Linked DNA regions of Homo sapiens: region 2 is linked to region 1. Evidence: fine-mapped expression QTL. A gene starts in region 1. The other region holds a variant in brackets. All regions are shown on one strand. Distances are between the middles of the regions.

The links.
Region 2: its variant is fine-mapped to the expression of PAQR4 in whole blood (INTERVAL, PIP above 0.99).

What each region holds. Positions count from the first base shown.
Region 1 is chr16:2,966,439-2,971,791 of GRCh38, reverse strand. It overlaps PAQR4 (progestin and adipoQ receptor family member 4), which reads right to left and starts at 2,444. Exons shown (of 3, transcript NM_152341.5): 1 at 1,952-2,444; 2 at 414-635; 3 at 1-277. The coding sequence starts at 2,117. KREMEN2 (kringle containing transmembrane protein 2) reads right to left here. Exons shown (of 9, transcript NM_172229.3): 4 at 5,343-5,353; 5 at 4,997-5,150; 6 at 4,550-4,882; 7 at 4,347-4,472; 8 at 4,188-4,266; 9 at 3,412-3,982. The coding sequence ends at 3,772. RefSeq lists enhancers at 1-190, 2,940-3,019, 2,473-3,462 and silencers at 1,440-1,579, 1,850-1,969, 2,000-2,049, 2,060-2,229, 2,260-2,679.
Region 2 is chr16:2,992,855-2,998,159 of GRCh38, reverse strand. GREP1 (glycine rich extracellular protein 1) reads right to left here. Exons shown (of 29, transcript NM_001396456.1): 11 at 5,197-5,229; 12 at 3,433-3,462; 13 at 3,322-3,354; 14 at 3,198-3,233; 15 at 2,844-2,876; 16 at 2,506-2,541; 17 at 2,389-2,421; 18 at 1,629-1,664; 19 at 1,455-1,487; 20 at 1,075-1,107; 21 at 325-357. Among named protein-coding and RNA genes, the nearest start is that of GREP1, 7.2 kb to the right of the region's middle. RefSeq lists enhancers at 1,647-2,619, 3,939-4,440. The variant C/T (reference allele first, on the strand shown) is at 2,834.

The DNA.
Region 1 (5,353 bases):
GCTACATTTACCAGTCCCCCAAGCAGCGCCAGTGCGTCCATGCGCAGGTAGCAGGGCAGGGAGCCTGGAGCCCCTGAACCCAGACCCACTCCCCGGGCCCCAAATACCAGTAGGCGGGCAGCAGCCTGCCATCCAAATGCCCGGAGCCGAGCACTGGTGGAGGGGGCGGTGAGAGCACGCCAGCCGGCCACACCCGACAACACAGTGTAGCCCACCAGGGCAGCCGGGCGCAGCCAGGGCCTGCAGGCCAGGGTGCAGTGGATGATGGGCAGGGCCCCTGCACAAGAGGAGAGAACAGGAGAGGGCATGTCATTGTGAGGGTCCACCCGCCCTTCCCTACCCATGGCTTGTATGCGTGCCCCATGCCTCTCCCGCCGGTGGCTCCAGCTCCCATCCCTTGGGCCCTGACTCACCAAGGGTGTTGACAAGGCAGACCCCACACATGTCCAGGGCGAGGAGCCGGGCGTACACAGCGCTGCCCCCTTGGTGGCACATAAAGAGGTGATAGAGCACGGAGCCTGCAGGGGGTGCAAGGCAGGCCACGCAATGTGTGCCTCCCAGCCAGCCATCCTTGCCCAGCTGACCCCAGGGCATGGTCATTGGCACCAGCACCAGGAAGCCCAGCAGGGCCAGCCCTAGGGAGGGAGACAGTCATCTACCAGATAGTTTCAGTCACATCCTCAAGGGGACCACGGTTCAGACACAACACAGGACAGGGCAAGACAGGTCCAGGTAATGCTGTCATCCAGTTGGCGGCCTGGCCTTGGCCAGAGACAGGCCCTGGGCAAAAGGCTTTTGGCACTGGTTACTTATCATGGCTCAGGATGGTCTGGGAAGTAGAGACCATGATCCCCACTTTGCAGGTGAGGAAACAGACTTGGAGGGGCTGAGTGACCGGCCCCGGGTGAGCCCAGCAGGTAAGCAATGGCAGAGGACAGGCCTAGGCCGTCCCACTCCCACACTGCTCTCCCCATACAAGCAGGTCACAGGAGAAGGCTAAGGCAGCGAAACCTCAAGTTGAGTTGTGAAGAGGACACATGAGCAGTGATGCCAGCCCGGGGCCACTTGGCTTGCTCTTCCCAACCCAAGTCCTCCCCTCTCCATAAGTGTCCAGACAAATGGAGGCACTGGGCCTTTTTATCTTCTATAAAGGGGTGAGGCCAGGTGGGGGAAGACAAGTCCAGAATGAAGGGAAGGGGGCTTCGAGGGGCTTGTCCCATCTCCCCAGACCTCTCCCTGGGGAGTTTGATTCCAGCCTAGCCCTTTCTGGGAGGTCTCCACCCCTCCCTGCCGGCCTCTAGTACTGGCCTCCCAGGGGCCAAACGGGGCTCCGAAGGCTGCCCACCCTTGTGAGAATGTGGCCTGGCAAAAGCTCGGGAAAGGCACCCAGGCTGGGCCAGGCCGCTCAGGGCCCCTTGCCCGCCTGGGGCAGCTCAAGGACGGGCAGGGCTGTGTCAGCAGAGCTCCGCGGGGCGCGGAGGAGGGGCCGGACGCCTGTTGGGGGAAGAAGGAGCCGCCACCAGGCGGAGCCCCAAGACAGAGCGGCTTGGGGCGGGGGCGTCAGGACGGCGGCGCTGGGAGGCTCCTCCCGGGCCCTCCTCATCGCAGTCAACACCATCTCCCGGCTGGGTGCTGGCGGGAGGGGGTTCCCAGGGCGCTGGGATTACAGAGGCCGGACACCATGCTCCCTACCCCTGGGGCTCAGAGGGATTAAGCAGGCTCAGACCCTACTCTGCTCCCCTCTCCTGACCCGGCCCCCACCCGCCGGGAAAACGGAAGCTGGCAGCGCGGCCCGGGACAATGGCAGCTTTGTCACCGCGGCTACTGGCGGTGCCAGGGCCGGGGCAGCCCTGGACTTGGGCGCTGGGGCCCTCCTCGGCCTCAGTGCCCCCGGCCCAACGCAGGTAGGGCGGCCGGGGGTGTGGGAAGCGCGTTGCGGGACGCGGCTCACCGTGCGTGTAGATGTTGCCCAGTTCGTTGTGCAGGTAGAAGAGGCTGCGCAGGCAGCCCGAGCCGCTGCTGGCGGGCCGGTACCCGGTCAGCACGAACTTATTGAACTGCAGGTGCGGCGGCGAGCTGGCCCAGTCCAGCAGGCGCGGCCCGGCCAGGAACGCCATGGTCCGCACCGCGCGGGCAGCCCGTGCTCCTGCTGTCCCCGAGCCTCCTCCTCAGTGGGGCCGCAGCGCGGGAAGGCCCATCACTGCCTGGCGCCCGGCGCCCGGCGCCCACCCATCGCCCTGCGCTCGATCGGCGCACGCGCTGGCTAGGGGGTCCCAGCCCGCGCCCCTCCGGCGCTGCGCACGCGCGAGTCCGTCGCCCCCGCGCCGGGGCGGAGGCTGGGGACGCACCGGACGCCTGAGCGCACTGCGGTCGGCTCCGCCAAGGCAGACGCGCCGCAGGGACAGCTCGCGGCGGCGGCGGCGGCGGTGGCCGGTAGTCTCTCTGCAGCCAGGAGGACGGGCGCGGCCGGACGCGGGAGGGGACGCCAGGCTCCGCCCAGGCTCCTAGTTCCCGCCGGCCGGCCAGCGTTTCGCGCGCCGGGCTCCTGACGTCGGCGCAGCGAGAGCCAATGGGCGTGGCCGGCGGGGAGGCTCCGCCCCGAGGCCGCCCAGGCCTCGCCTCCTAGCATAGTGTGCGCGCTCCCAGCCTCATTTGCATGGGGTGGCTGTGGGCTTGCGACCCAACGTTCTGGGTCCTGCGGGCTGCGCTAGAGTGACCCTGGCACCTCGCGTCCCTCAGAACTGTGCATCCGGGCTTTCCGCGTGACACCCAGGTCTCCGTACCTTTGGGCACCCACCCTCGGGGGCATAGTCCTGCCACCTAGCCCTACCCTGCAGACGGGGCTCTGTCCAAGGTGCTGCCGGACGGGTCCGGCCTACATCCGGTACGCCCCCGCTCCAAAGTGATCTTTCCGCAGGCTGGACTCCCGAGTGCAGCAAGGCGCTCCACGGTACCCAGGCCTCTGAAGGCGTGCCTCACGCGCCCGCAGCCGTCGGGAGAGGCCCTATCCTTCGCGCTAGGCTTCTCGGAGCGTGGGCCCGGCCCAACTTGCTCCCAGTTATCGCCCACAAGGAGCACCCTTGCGGGGCCCTACCGAGGATAGACAGGAAACAGATTGGAGGCCAGGGGAGCAAAGTCGACCTCCGCCCCGTCCACCCTGAGCAGGGACCGGGAAGGCACCCCTTATTCAGCATAACGCTGCCCACGATCCTCCTCCCCTTCCACCCCCCGCCTTCTACAGGACTCCACCCACCCACCCATCTGTCTGTGTTCTAGGTCCTTCTCTGCATTCCAGGCAGCTCCACCAAAGTCTGCGTGCAACGCCCTTCATTTGCATGGACACACGCAACCCTCGGCGTTTGTATGGTCATTAACATGCTCCTCCCACCACGGAAGAACTTTCGAGGCCCGTACCAAAGTAGATCCTTTATTCAAAATCTGTGGGGGTTTTTTGACTGTTTTTGCTGACCTGTGACCTCTCACTGAGGACGGCAGTCCAGGACCACCCCCAGAGGGGTTCAAAGACCTCCGAAACCAGAGACCACCCCCACATACAGGTCCATGGAGAGGGCCTGGACCATCTGGACCCCCACGGTCAGGCCAAGTCCCAGATAATAGCACCAGATGTTTCCTGTCCGACTTTTGGTCTCCCCAAGGCGACCAGAGGCCGAGCTGCCCCTACACAGGCGCAAGGCCGAGGCAGGGCGCAGCACAGCATCTCAGGTGTCCATCTCGCCGGCGGCGGGCCCAGCGGACCCTCGGGGCCCAGAGTCAGAGAGCGGAGATGAGCGAGCGCAGGGAGCTCTGGCTGGAGGCACTCAGAGGCCGGTAGCCCGCGGCAGAACCCTCAGCCTGGGGGTCCCCGGGGGAGCAGGGCAAGGCCACCCCTCGGGGCTGTTGGTACCACACAGCCCAGCTTCTCCTGGGGCCCCTGGAAGCCCCCAGCGCCGGGGGCCCTTTTCCCGGAGCCAGCAGACAGCTCCTAGAGAGGGAGCAGACATCAGCCGAGCCGGTCCAATCCCGCTGCAGCGTCCTGCTCTACCTGCGATCCCGCGCGCGATCCTGTGCGTGGACCCAAAGCCTCGCTCCCTTAAGAACCCAGGAGTTCCTTCCTAGCTCTGTTCCCTTCTGGGGCTCCAGCTCCCCACCACCGGTCCGCCCTCAGGCCCTGCCCCAGCGCCCCGCACCGTCGGCGCAGCGGACGCAGCAGCCCCAGGAGCAGCAGCAGCAGCACCGAGACAGCCGTCACCGTCGAGAAGACCCGGGCTGCGGGCACACGGCTGCGGTGAGGATGGGCGCGAGGGGGCGGCTCCCTGACTCACTCCCGTCCCGCGCGCCCGCCTCACCCCCAATCGCGGCCGGCGGAGCCCCAGGCCTGGGGCTGCAGCTCACGTTGGCCCCGTCGAGGGGCGCCGCGGGGGTCTGGGCCGAGCCCTCGGGGGCCTCTGGGTCCTCAGCGGCGTCCTGCAGCCCTGCGGAGAGGGGCGTGAGGCGGGGTGGGGAGAGCGGGGTGGGAACAGCGGGCAGGGCGCGCCGAGCTGAGGCTCACCGCGGTAGGTGAGCGCGAAGCCTTGCGCGTGGCCGCGCGCGTCGCTTCGGAAGGTGAGCAGCAGCGCGGCAGTGCCCAGGCGCAGCGGCCCGGACGGCGGTGGGCGGGCGCCATCGAAGGCGCGGAGCAGGCTGCCCGAAGCCGCGTCGCGCAGCTCCAGCCGGTCGCGCGGGTCGGCCAGCTCGAAGAGGCGGAAGGTGAGCTCCAGCGCGGCGCCTGGCGGGCCCAGGGCCCAGCTGCAGTTCCGGTCCGGCCCGTACTCGTCCGGGAAGTCCGGGGAGTAGATGACGCCCTGAGGCGCTGTCCAGTTCCCCTGGCAGGAGCCCACCGACACTGCGGGCGGGGCCGGCAGTCAGCATCCTGAGGACCAGGACACGGCGGCTCCCCTGCCCGGCCAGGCCCCACCTCGAGGCCCGCCCAGGCCCCTGGTCCCCGCCCACTCCTCACCTTCATAGACGCCCAGCCGCCCATCGCCGCCACACAGCTGTCCAGGGTGGCCGAAACAGATCTGGTCACAGTCGGTGGCGGGGGCCAGGCGTCCCCGGGCCAGGTCGCTTTCAGAGCCACAGAAGCAGGCGTAACCGGCCTCCACGCCCGCCAGCTGGGAGCACAGACTGGGTGACCCCAGGGCAGGGGCTGGGGTAGGGGTGAAGTGGTGGGGGCCTGGGGTCGGGGTGGGAATCGGGCTGGAGGTTCAGAAACCGGTGTCTGGGTTTGGCAACCGAGTGTTGGGAGTTGAGTGTGGTCTTTAGGTCCAGGTCAGGGGTCACTGGTCTGGGCCCGTGAGCAGTACCTGGTACCCCT
Region 2 (5,305 bases), 26 kb before region 1:
GAAGAGGGGCAGAGAGCAACTCGGCTTTGGAGGTTTCTGGCTCTCTCCCAGGCCAGAGACCCATGGAGAATAATGGACAGGCCCACCCCACCCCACCCCTTCCCCCACTGAGACCCAACTCTGTCCGTTGGAGCCTGTCCTCCTTCCCCTCTGCTCCAGGTCCCACCCACCTCCCTCACCTGGCTGGGCTCCTTCCCACAGGAAGGCTCCAGCTCCAGCCCGTTCTTGCACCATGGGGAGACAGGGTACAGCTTGGGAGGGGAAAAGGGTGGAGGGGTAGGCAGTTTCTGCAGGTAGGGAGAGTGAGGAGTGGGAAGGGCTTACCTGGCTTCTGAGGTTTCATGCCCTCTCCAGCACCTGGAGAGATGCGAGTAGGTGAGGGACCCATGCCCACTCCTCACTGAGGGGTCTCTTCCAGACCTGGCATCTGTCCCCCACCTGGTGCCCATGCCAACCTCCCCTTCCTGGTCCATGACCAGTGGGAACTGCAGGGTCTGTGGGGGCGGCATGGGGAGAGGTTGGGGTACAGAAGGGGGCTGGAGCCTGGCCCCCCTTTCCTCCCAATTTAGGAACTGGAGCTCCCAGCACCTCCCTCCCCCTTGTGCCGCCTCCTCTCCAGACTCTACCCCGTCTAAGGCTGCAGGAGCCCCCAAGAAAACCCTCAGTACAGGGTCAGGGGAGAGCCAGGCCCCCACCTCTTTCCTCCTTTCTGCACTCCCAGCAACTCCAGCCCCCCAGTACCTGCTCTGTAGCCATTCTGGGCTAAGGGGCCTGTGGGGAGGGAGGGGTGAGCAGGGGGTTTGGGATTCTAGCTAAGGAGAGGGCGAAGGGCCTTTGGATCCCCTTTCAGAGCCAAGTCAGAAACCAGGGATCCTGGCGCCACCTCTCCTCCCTCATTTTGGTGTCCACCTGCTCTGGAGGCCTGGGAGGGAGACAGGGACATCAGCCCGACACCCCCTCACTGGCTCGGCTCCCAGCCCCCTCCTGAATGCCGATGGAGCTGAGGTGGGGTATGAATGAGGGAGGGAGCTCAGGGTTTGGGGGAGGCAGAGGGACAGGCGGGGCAGGGCTCACCTGGCTTCTGGGCCTTCATAACCCCCAAATAGCCTGGTGAAGAGAAAGGGAGCAAGTGAGGGACCCAAGGCCTCCGCTCTGGACCTCCTGGAACCCCAGCCCTGCCCCTTCCTGGTCCATAGCCGTTTGGAGCTCCCAGGCCTGTGGGGCAAAAAAGGGAACGTGGTAAGGCTGAGCCACTGGGGGACAGGGAGGCAGGGGCCAGGAAGGGGGCTCTCAGTCTCTCCCCAACCTCCTCTCCCCTCGGTCCTCGGTGCTCCTACAGACCTCCCCTCACTCATGAGGCAGGGGTCACCCCTCCCCTGGGAGTCCCACGCAGACCCAGCTAGAACACCAGGATCTAGGGGAGGTGGGGCCACAGACACAGGCAGTCCCCTCACCTGGCATCTGAGGCTTCATCCCCGCTCCTAGGCCTGGGAGAGACAGAGAGGCTGACATCAACTCCAGCCAGTGCTGCTGATCCCCAGACCCCAGCTCTCTGTCCCTGTGGCCTCAGCTTCTCTCTTCCCGTCCCACCTCCCGACCCCTCGCGAGCCAGGCCCAGCTGCCCTCACCTGGCTGGACTCCCGGTCCATTTCCATGGCCATATTCTAGGGGGAGGGACGGGGAGGGTGTGAGACGGCGGCATTCGGAGGGGGTGTCAGGAGGACGCAGCCCTAGAGACAGGGCGGGGGCCCAGGGCCCTGGGAGGGGGCCTGGCTCCCCCTCCCAGGCCTACAGAGAGACACAGAGGCAGAGCCACATCCGGCCAGCCAGTGGCACTTAATTCCCCAGGATTCAGACCCACACTCTGCCCTCCCGGCCCCCTGGCCCGATCTTTGTCTTCCCCCTTCCCTCTAAGAAGCCTGGGCTCAGCCCGGTGCGGTGGCTCACGCCTGTCATCCCAGCACTTTGGGAAGCCAAGGCAGGTGGATCATCTGAGGTCAGGAGTTCGAGACCAGCCTGAGCAACATGGTGAAATCCTGTCTCTACCAAAAATACAAAAATTAGCCAGGTGCGGTGGTGGGTGTCTGTAATCCCAGCTACTTGGGAGGCAGAGGTAGGAGAATTGTTTGAACCCAGGAGGTGGAGGTTGCAGTGAACCGAGATTGCGCCACTGCACTCCAGCCTGGGCGACAGAGCAAGACTCCATCTCAAAAAAAAAAAGCCTGGGCTCCTACCCCAGGTGTCCTCACCTGGCTGGGTTCCAGCCCCAGGGAAGGCCCCTGCTCTCAGCCTTTTCCCATATCCTGGAGAGGGAGGGAGCATGAGTAGAGTGCTTATGGCTTCAGGGGTTCGTGCATAGAGAGGCAGACCAGGGCGGGCGGGGCTCACCTGGCTTCAGAGGCTTCACATTCCCTCCAAGGCCTGGAGGAGATATAGGGGGGCTGGTGAGTGACTCAGGGGCCCCACCCACATTCTCCCCCAGCCCCTCCCCACCCCTGCTCCTACCTGCTCCAAATCCAAATCGGTTCTGGGCTGTCAAGACTATGGGGAGAGGAGGGTGGGGTGGGGATTTGGGGTTTGGTTGAGGTGGAGGTAAGGGAATCCTGGAGGCTTCCTCCCAGCAGCCCTTCAGTTATTCACCAGCTCAGCCCCCCATGAGACTGGGAAGGGAGGCAGGGAGAGGACGCCCCAGGGGTAGAACCCCAGACCCCATCTGTCTCACCTGGCTGAGCACTCAGCCCATTCCCATTCCCTAATCCTGGGGGACAGATGGAGGTGGGGGTGAGAGGGGGAAGGGGGCTCTGAACACTGGGGAGACAGAAGCCCGGGAGAG[C/T]CAGGCTTACCTGGCTCCTGTGCCTTCATGTCCCCTCTAAAGCCTTTGGGAAAATGGGGAGCAGATGAGGTACCTAGGAGCCCCCAACTCAGATCCACCCCAGAACCCCAGCATCTGGACCCCAGCTCCTCCCATCCCCCTCAGGACCTGCTCCAGGGCCATTCTGAGGTGGGGGGCTTGTCGGGGTGGGAGGGCTGAGCTAAGCTGGGGACACAGCGCCTATGGTTCCCCTTCAGGGCCAAGCCAGAAGCCAAGGATCTTGGAGACGCCCCGTCACCCCTCTCCATCATTCACCAATCCCGCCCCTGGGAGGAAGAGGCCGCCCAGATGCAGACCCTGGAACCCCAGACTGTACCCCCTTCACCTGGCTGGGCTCCCAGCCCAATTCTGTACTGGAATCCTGGGGGAATAGATCAAGGCGGGGTATGAATGAGGGGAGGGAGCTCAGGTTTTGGGGAGGCAGAGGGACAGGCCGGGGCAGGGCTCACCTGGCTTCTGGGGTTTGACGGCCCCCACATAGCCTGGTGGAGAGACAGGGAGCAGGTGAGGAACCTGGGGCCCCAGCTCTGGGCCTCCCCAAACCCCAGCCCCGCCCCTACCTGGTCTATAGCCATTTTGAGTGGTGGGGCCTGTGGAGGAGAGAAAGGGTTAAGGCCCTCCGGAGCCCTGGATGCCATCTCCAGCCACCTCGGGCAGGGGTGTCCCCACCCCCAACTTCAACGAGCCAGAAAGGCAGGTTCCTTTCCTCAGCAGCCTCCAACTGTCAAGCTCCAGCTCCTGCCACATCTTGGGTCTGAGCTCTTTTTTTTATTTTCTTGAGATGGAGTCTCGCTCTTGTTGCCCAGGCTGGAGAGCAATGGCGTGATCTTGGTTCACTGCAACCTCCGCCTCCCGGGTTCAAGCAATTCTCCTGCCTCAGTCTCCTGAGGAGCTGGGATTACAGGTGCCCGCCACCACGCCTGGCTAATTTTTAGCATTTTTAGTAGAGACGGAGTTTCACCATGTTGGCCAGGCTGGTTTTGAACTCCTGACCTCAAGTGATCCGCCCGCCTAGGCCTCCCAAAGTGCTGGGATTACAGGCGTGAGCCACTGCGCCTGGCCAGGTCTGAGATCTTGCTGGAGCCTGTACCTTCTTTGTTCAAAACTCTCCTTTTGGTTCAGTTTCTCAGAGGGTTGGGCCACTCTCTCCTCCCTGGCCTCCACTGCCTCCTAAGAACTCCCAGAGCCCAGCTCTGGGGCAGCCTCAGCCCATACTGTATGCCCCAGCGTGGCCCTGGTTGGGGAGGGCCTGTCCCCAGCACCTGGTTGGCTCAGAACAGGCATGGTCCACGGATTACTTTGGTTGTTGTTTGTTTGTTTGTTTGTTTTTGAGACGGAGTCTTGCTTTGTCACCCAGGCTGGAGTGCAGTGGCACGATCGGCTCACTGCAAGCTCCGCCTCCTGGGTTCACGCCAGTCTCCTGCCTCAGCCTCCCGAGTAGCTGGGATTACAGGTGCCCACTACCACGCCCGACTGATTTTTTTGTATTTTCAGTAGAGACGGCGTTTCACTGTGTTAGCCGGGATGGTCTTGATCTCCTGACCTTGTGATCCACCCGCCTCAGCCTCCCAAAGTGCTGGGATTACAGGCGTGAGCCACTGAGCCCGGCCTGTCTGTTTTTTAAACAGGATCTCTCTCTGTCACCCAGGCTGGAGTACAGTGGCAAGATCTCCACTCACTACTACCTCGACTTCCTGGGCTCAAGTGATCCTCACCTCTCAGCCTCCAGAGTAGCTGGGACTACAGGCACGTGCCACCACAACTGGCTAGGTTTTTTTTTTTTGTAGATGGATTGCTTGAGCCCAAGATTTCAAGACCAGCTTGGGAATGTTGCCCAGGCTGGTCTTGAACTCCTGGGCTCAATTGATCCACCTAACTCTGCCTCCCGAACTGTTGGGATTACAGGTGTTAGCCACTGCTCCAGGCCTGGATTGGTTTGTCGAATGAGGTTTGTTGTGTGAGACCAAGTTGGGAGGCTAGAGATTGGGGCTCGCCTGCTCTCTGAGCCTTTAGTCCCCCTCCCAGGCCTGGGAAGAGAAGGGGAAGGACTTCCTGTGAGTCCACCCATCCCTTCCTCTCTGCTCAGGACCAGGGCCAGGCCCCTACATCAGTAACCCCCAACCCCTAAGACCTCCATGCTCCCAGAACTCCAGGGCCTTACCTGCCTGGGTTCCAGCTCCCAGGAAGGCCCCGACTCCCCACCCATTCCTATTCCCAAATCCCAGGGGACAGAGCCAAAGAGAATGGGGAGATCAGGGACTCTAGGGAAGCAGCGGCAGATGCATAGGAAATGGGCAGGGAGACAGGGACAGGGAGTGGCTCACCTGGCTTCTGGGGTTTTCCACCCCCTCCAAAGCCTGGGGGGAAGATGAGAGGGTGAGGGATCCTTTCCTCTGGGCCTGTGCCCAGAATCTCAGCCCCAGGCTCCCCGCT